Linked DNA regions of Homo sapiens. The protein of the gene in region 2 interacts with the protein of the main gene of each other region in a pairwise test. Each region holds a gene or a part of one and is shown on either strand. Other genes may lie near its edges.

Region 1 (4,404 bases), on a different chromosome or scaffold from region 2:
GGATGTGGGGGACCTACCATCTTCCGGCCAATGTACTCCCAGCCAGGTCGCACAGACTCCCGGAAGGCCTTCCTGTGGGCCCCATCTGAGAACAGAGTGTGGCCTCAGGGAGAGGGGCCTTCACATCCCCTGCCCCACCTTCCCCCGTGGACAAGGCTGCCCCACCCTGGGGAGCGAGGGCATCAGGAACGGGGCACGGGTCTGAGTCTCTTTGGTGCTGCATCTGCTTCTTTCTGGGTCTCGCTGTGTGTCTGGGTCCAGGACTCTGTGTGTGTGTGTGTGTGTTGGGGTGTGTGTGTATATGTCTGTGTGTTTGTGTGTGTGTCGGGGTCCAGGTCTCTGTGTGTGTGTGTGTGTGTCGGGATGTGTGTGTGTGTATGTCTGGGTCTAGGTCTCTGTGTGTGTGTGTCTGGGTCCAGGACTCTGTGTGTGTGTGTGTGTGTGTGTGTGTTGGGGTGTGTGTGTATATGTCTGTGTGTTTGTGTGTGTGTCTGCATCCAGGTCTCTCTCTGTGTGTGTGTGTCTGGGTCCAGGTCTCTGTGTGTGTATGTGTGTGTGTGTGTGTTGGGGGGTGTGTGTATATGTCTGTGTGTTTGTGTGTGTGTCTGGGTCTAGGTCTCTGTGTGTGTGTGTGTGTGTCGGGATGTGTGTGTGTGTATGTCTGGGTCTAGGTCTCTGTGTGTGTGTGTCTGGGTCCAGGCCTCTGTGTGTGTGTGTGTGTGTGTCTATGTGTGTGACTCTGTGTCCATCTCTCTGTCAGTGTCTCTGCATCTCTGTGTTCCTGTGACTGAACCTGGCTCCACCCAGCCTCCAGTGACTATCTGAGATGGGAACCCCGGGCTGAAAAGGGAGATCCAGCCGTGTTCTAGAAGGAGTACCCTAGGTCTGGAGCCTGTAACTTTCTGGCTTTGCTGGTTGGAACCCTGAGGCCTCCAGGGGAAGAAGGGTCCTGTCCACCTGCCCCGGGGCACAGCCATTACCTTGTGAAGCCTCAAGGAGGCCCCGGCCAGCATAGGCCAGGGCCCCACTCAGCACCAGAGAGTAGAGGCCCAGCTCAGCCGCCGGCAATGCTGTCTTGATGCCCATAGCCTGGACAGGGCTGGGGAGACAGGTTGGGTGAGGGAATTACAGTCTCCAGCCAAGCCTAGCCCCACCTCATGGTCCCACCACCCCAGTGGGGACCCACTCTGAAGAGAGATTGCCCCTCCAGCCCCTTGGGGACCTTGTACCATCACTCTGCCTGCCCCTGTGCCCCCCACAGTTCACAGGCCACCGAACACCAGTGCCCCATCCCAGCTGCTGCTCTTGCCCCCACCCCACCCATCAAGGCTCTTGCCCGCAGAGCCCTCACTCGCAGCCTGCCTCCCTCACCTTCATTTACATCTTCATACCTTCCAGAGGCACCGGCCCCACCCTCTGCCAAAACCGCTCCTGCCAAGGCCCCCATGACCTGCGTGCGGAGAAACCCCACCTCTATCACTACAGTCAGGTTTCTGCCTGCAGGGTCCCCACCTCGATCAGTGAGTCTCCCTTAGCTCCTCACAAAGCCCCAGCTTCTCTAAGACCCTTTCTCTGACTCCCACTCCCCTCCCTGAGATCCCATGACCACCCCAGGTGCTGCCCCTAGAGCCAAGCCTCCATCCTCGCATTAAGCCTCCAGCCTGTCACTGACCCCCATTCCCCCAACAAGTCCCTGAGCTCCAGCCTGTCACATCCCAGTCCCTGCCTGTGTCCGTGACCACACTGCCCCACTCTCTCAGCGCTCTGTGTATTCAGGCCCTGGGCACCAGCTGGAGGCTGTGCTATTTGAGGAGGTGCCCAGGAGTAGCGGATGTGGGGCCAGGCGGGGCCAGGCGGGGCCAGGGAGGGCACTGGCTGCTGTCCAAGGTGCTGACCAGAATCAGGCCCCGGCTGAGTCTCACCACTCCCTCCAGCGGGGGCCTAGCTTGTCCCCTGGAGAACTGCTGGGCCGTACTACGGCTCAGCTAGCACCTTTACCCTTCCTATCCCGCTTCAGCCTGGCTCAGGGGCTTCCCAAGGACTCCATGGATACAGACATAGGACCCAAATTAAAGGGAGGAAGCAGGGAACATGTCCAGGCAACTCTTGGGCTGACGGGGCCAAGAGGTGGCTGATGTGGCCCTTTTGCCCACCCTTGATCCTCCCCTAAATCTTCATCCCCAGCCCTGTAGCCATCTCCCCTGGGCCCCCCAGCAGCCGACGGTCTCCTCGTACAGATGGAGGGGTCATGGGCCAGATAGGGGCAGGGACCTGTCAAGGTCACATGGCAGACCTGGGACAGACTTCTGCCTGCCTCCCTTCAGGATTGGGTTTCTCAGTGACCCCCCTCTGGAATCTGGGGTAAGAGAAGACCACCACTGCCCCTGCCCACAGCAGAGGCTGCCAGCCTGATGGCTGTGCTGTCGGCCTGAGGGTGGAGGCACCTCCTCATCAGTTGGGTGGGGGTGGAGAGGCCCTGGGGATCAGGTTAATGGAGCAGGAGCTTGAAACCGGAGCATGGTGAAGAGCCCGTGAAATAGCTTTGTCAGCTGCCTCCCACTCGCCACTTTCCAATTTTAGCTCCCCATGGCCGGTGCGGGGTGTCCCCAGTGAGGCCTCTGCAAGGAGCTGGCCCCCAGCCTGGGGCCTCTCCTGATAGACCCCCAGACCAGGGCTGGCCTGTGGACACGGGGGCATACCCTTTCCCCTGGTCCTGCCTGCCCCAGATGCCCCGGGGGTAAAGCCCCTTTTGGGGCCTGTGATTTGGGATGAGGGCCTGGGGTGTGCCCCACAAGTCTCAAGAGCCCCAGAGTAGCTGCATCCCCAGCTGGCACTGACCTTGAGGAGGCCGCAAGGGACCCTGGCACACTGCCCACCTCAGGCTCTGGGGTCCGGCTTCCAACTGTCCGTCCGTGCGACCGGCTGAGCTCTGGGGCCACGGTGGGGTGTGTCCAGCCCTGGGGTCCCCACCCCCTTGAGGTTATGAGCGGTGAGTGGTGACAGCGGGAGGAGGAGGGGGAGGAGGAGGTGGCCTTCCTGGAGCGGAGCTGAGCAGAGTGGAGCAGAGCCGAGTGCTGCAGAGCTGCTGGCCACAGGGAGCCGCAGGGAGGATCCTTGAAGGGGGGCGGGTGCTGGGTGGGGGGAGGGTGTCCAGTAGCATAGGCTCAGACAGGGACACCTGGGCCTCTCTTCAGCCTGCCTCCCCTGGCTCCTAGAGAGCCTGTGCCTCTCTCTCACTGCTACCCAGGACTTCCCTCTTCCAGGAAGACTCCTGGTGGTCCCACCAGCCTCTCCAGGCTTGTAAGCCCTGCCCCCACCACAGACACACACAGTCACAACATGCAAACACTTTCATGCTTGGGCTCCAGGGACTCCAGCTCCTACCTTTACATATGACCTCCTAAGGGCTATCCCAGGGCAGACTTGTCTCGCCCCATGACCTGGTCCTTTTCATTATGCCGTGAGTCCTGGCTGGCCATGCATCAGTGCCTGAGGGAGGGCTGACTTGCCTGATGGGACTGGAACTGGCATGGGACATGTGGCTGAGAGGGATCCCCATAAGTCAGCCCTGTCCCATAGGGAGTGTCCTGGATGGAGGGGTGCTAGCAGGGTCACTTGGCAAGGCTTGTGGGTACTTGGAATGGCTGGTATCCTCTCGGTGGCAGAGTGGAGGCAGACAGGAAGACAGGTGTGTTCCTAACCAACTGGGAGTCCTGGTAGGACAGGGCCCTCATTCTGGAAGGGAGCATCCAAGGCCTCAGCCCTGGATACCTGAGGGGAGGGGCATCCTGAAGGTGCCCCTGAGATTAAGAACCTCTGACAGTGCCCCTTCGGTTGAGGCCAAGTCTCGGGCAGCTGTATGTGTCTGTGCTATCTAGGGGGACCTGTTCACCTGTGTGCTTGTGGGGAGGCTCTCGGGGGTAGAAGGAGCTTTGTGGCTGTGATCAGTCACAGGACAGCTCCTGGAGCCCCTGCTGATCCTATGACCCCAGCTTCAGGCTCAGTTGAGGAGGCAGGAGGGAGGTGCTGCTCCCCACCCATCAGGGCCCAGGAAGGGGAGAGACTGCACTTAGGCAGGGAGCTGCCTCCCGAGCACATAGACACGCTGGCCTGGAGAACAGCAAGGAGACGCCCAACCTACACACTCCACACAGGACACAGAGGCCCGTGTCTGTGGTCCCCGACCCTGAGAAGCATGAATGGTGACTACTGCACAGTGTGGGTGCTGGGTTAGAGCTGTGGTGGGTAATGGGCACTAGAGAGGCCAGCATCAGGAAGGGAAGGATACCTGAGCCAGACTTCAGGGTTAAGGAGGGCTTCCTCAGGGAGGGGTAGTCAAAGGTTGTTAGGAGTAAGTTAATCATAGTAGCCAGGATGTACATGGATTAACTTTTTAATGTCACC
Region 2 (3,246 bases):
TGGCCAAGGAGAACTGCCCATGACTAAGACAGGTCAGTCATGCCTCAGTACACTCCTTCCTTGCTAACCAATACCAGATTTTTTTCTTCAGAGTTAAACAGAAACTAGCTCTGAAAACAAACAAACAAACAAACAAAAAAAGGGAAGTCTCCTCTGCTGACTCTAACATCAACCAACCACTGTTACCTTTGTATTTTTCAGTATTAGAAATAATTATTTAGCTGGGCACGGTGGCTCACGCCTGTAATCCCTGCACTTTGGGAGGCCGAAGCAGGTGGATCACAAGGTCAGGAGATCGAGACATCCTGGCTAACACGGTGAAACCCCATCTCTACTAAAAATACAAAAAATTAGGTGGGCGTGGTGGTGGGCACCTGTAGTCCCAGCTACTCAGGAGGCTGAGGCAGGAGAATCGCTTGAACCTGGAAGCGGAGCTTGCAGTGAGCAGAGATTGCACCACTGCACTCCAACCTGGGCGACAGAGTGAGACTCTGTCTCAAAAAAAAAAGAAATAATTATTTAGTTTTACTTCATACCCCTCAACTGCACTTTTACAGACAACAGATGCAGAACCCTCCATGGGTCCTTGCTTGGAAGCAGTACATCCTGTGGAGGAAGATGCTGAGGTAGTTTTCTGTAGTTGCTGAAAAGAAGTTTATTGCTATTTTCTTATTTTATTATACAAAACTAGATTTGCTTAAAACATTTCCCAGTCTCTTTAAAGGAATGCTAGTTAGTGGGAGGCCACAGCTAGTAAATTACCCTCAGTAGTGGTTTCAAGTAGTCCATAACTATAAAAATCGTTACGGCCAGGATATGCCGGAACAGAACACTCCCCACTGGGGTCCTCAGCCTTGGATGTCAGCTCGGCCCCTCAAGGGGTCCCTACACCTGGAAGCTGATTCCACTCATCAGTCTCGAGCTGGGCGCATGTGGAGTTGATGTGGAGTTGTAGCTGACTGGCTGGTGGGGTCAGCCTGGCCTCCCAGTGTGGAGCATGGGCACCAGCCTCACTGCGTGGTCACCCTAGGGCATATGCTGCGGGCTGTTGTGGCATTCCTGTGGCCAGCCCAGAGGCAGGCAGGGGCTGTCTGGGGTTTGCCATGTGCACCATCACCTGGGCTTGGGGTGAGCTGGAGGAGCCACTGAGGCTTAGAGCTCTGGGGATCCCAGGGTCCTTGTCCACGCTGCGGGTCACACTGGCCAGCTTGCTGGTGCTCTCACCATGGTCTCTGTGGAGAGAGGAGGCATGAGTTGGCAAAAGAGTGTGGATAGGGTTTAATCCCCAACTCCATACCTTCCCAGGTACCCAGGCCCTCCAGTGGGCCTGGGGCAACTGCTGCCCTGAGCACTGGGGAGCCCGTTTCCTCCTGCTGGGAGCTGCCCTGCACCCTAAGGTGCACAGAGGTCACTCCATCTCCCTGCCGGGCCCTGTTGGCAAGTGGGTCCTTCATCTACACAACCAGGGCGTGGCCCAGGAGTCAGACACTTGCCCCCCTAAGGTGTGGGAAGGGACTTCCTGGGGCTCATTCAGAGTGTGCAGAAACCACCAGGAACCCAGCTGTCTGGCCAGGGCCTGGGATGTCCCAGGCAGAGAAGGGATGCTGGGGAGCAGGAGGTCAAGGGGAGGACATCTTCCCTCCTGCCAGGCCTGCCTCTTTGGTAGCCAGGAGCTGGATCACCCACCTGCTCCACCCTCAGTACTCTTGTGGCTCTCTACTCCCCCAGATACAAACCAAGCCATTCCCCAGGCTGACCAGACCCTGGCCCTGTCCCATCTCCAGCCTCCACACACACACTGGCCTCTGCTCCATGTGGGCTGCCTGGCGGCTCCCACCTCCAGCCCTTTGCATGTCCTCTCCTCCCCTCAGAGGCTGTCTCTCTCCCCTCCCAAAGCAGGCTCTCTTAGTCCTTTCACTTCCGGCATCACCTCTTCCAGGAAGCCTTCCTGGATCACGGCTCCCACCCACAACTAATTCTCAGAAAAACTCTAGTAAGTAGTAGGAATTAAGAAATGATCTGCTTATGCAATGAGTAAGTGAAAGCATCAATAACTGGTGGAGACGAAAGGCAGCTTCGGGGAGGCAGGAGCCAGACTGACTCCACCCAGCCTCACTTACTGGTTGTGTGGGAGTCTACACAAGTTTCTTAACCTGCCTAGTTCTTCACCTGGAAAACGGGATAAAAGTAGTACCCACCCCTAGGTGAAAAGAGTTAATATTTGGAAGAGTTCAGAACAGTGCCTGGCACATTGCAAGTGCTGAGAAGTACTTATGAAATAAAAACAAGGTCAAGAGGCAAACCTCACCTTGCTAAAGGCAATTTACCACCTATGGAGGCAGCCTGGGCCCTGCCTGAGGGGTGGGCAGCCCCAGCACAGGCATATCCCGAGGATCCTGCCTGGGAGCCCGGGGCCCAGGGCTGGGGACTCAGGGAACTCTGCCTCCATCGGCTTTGTAGCCCTGGGCAGGACCCGCCTTCTCTGAGTCCCCATGAAGCTGGGCTGAGTGCTCGAGGTCTCCATGTGTGAGAGAGCTCCGGGAAGGGGCTCTGCCCTAAGGGTCCCCCTCCCAATCCCCCTCAGCCTCACCACCACTTCCTGCCTCTTGAGCTGACTGTCAGAGTGGCCCCTAAGCCGGCCTCCTCCAGCCTCTCACGGCCCTGTCAGGGTGCCTCCCTCCCGCCCTGGCTCTCTCACTCCCCAGAGGGGGTGAACACAGCCCTGTACACAGATCTGTGGCCACTCTTGGACGGGACGCACACGTCCGACCACACACTGCACAAGTTCCCGCAGTGTAAGAGGCAGGGTCTGTGGCGCTGGGACCAGGCAGAAGTGTGGCCCCAAACAGCACCCCTGGGAGCCCCTCGGCATCATGCTCTGGCCAGCAAAGCCCCTGCGGCAGCGGCAGCAGCTGTGGCTGCCATCATCCTGGACACCATGTTGCCTTGAGAGGCAATTGTTCCTTCCCCCATTCCATGGGCACTTTCCCAGTTATGACACAGGATGATCTGGTCCCAGTGCTGTAATGGGGAGTGGGGATCACAGGTGGGGCAATGGAGGAGCTCTGAAAGTGGCTTTGGATATCTCACTACCCAAAAGGAAAGGCATTAGCCACCATGGCCCCAACAAAACTAAAATAAAAAGGAAAGGGGGTCAGGCACGGTGGCTCACGCCTGTAATCCCAGCACTTTGGGAGGCCGAGGTGGGCAGATCACGAGGTGAGGAGATCGAGACCATCCTGGCTA

What was found.
Region 1: the proteins of SUSD3 (region 2) and HHATL interact in binary tests that used the Homo sapiens proteins (3 or more experiments, as listed by UniProt).

The regions. Positions count from the first base shown.
Region 1 is NC_000003.12:42,699,741-42,704,144, forward strand, and holds the start of HHATL (protein-cysteine N-palmitoyltransferase HHAT-like protein), read right to left. Parts: upstream 3,059-4,404; 5' UTR 2,839-3,058; exon of another isoform or gene 2,801-2,838; intron 1,782-2,800; exon of another isoform or gene 1,727-1,781; intron 1,451-1,726; exon of another isoform or gene 1,448-1,450; coding exon of another isoform or gene 1,392-1,447; exon of another isoform or gene 1,372-1,391; intron 1,100-1,371; coding exon of another isoform or gene 1,087-1,099; coding exon 981-1,086; intron 86-980; coding exon 18-85; intron 1-17.
Region 2 is NC_000009.12:93,082,523-93,085,768, reverse strand, and holds the end of SUSD3 (sushi domain-containing protein 3), read right to left. Parts: intron 1,233-3,246; coding exon 1,022-1,232; 3' UTR 636-1,021; downstream 1-635. UniProt on the Homo sapiens protein: May play a role in breast tumorigenesis by promoting estrogen-dependent cell proliferation, cell-cell interactions and migration.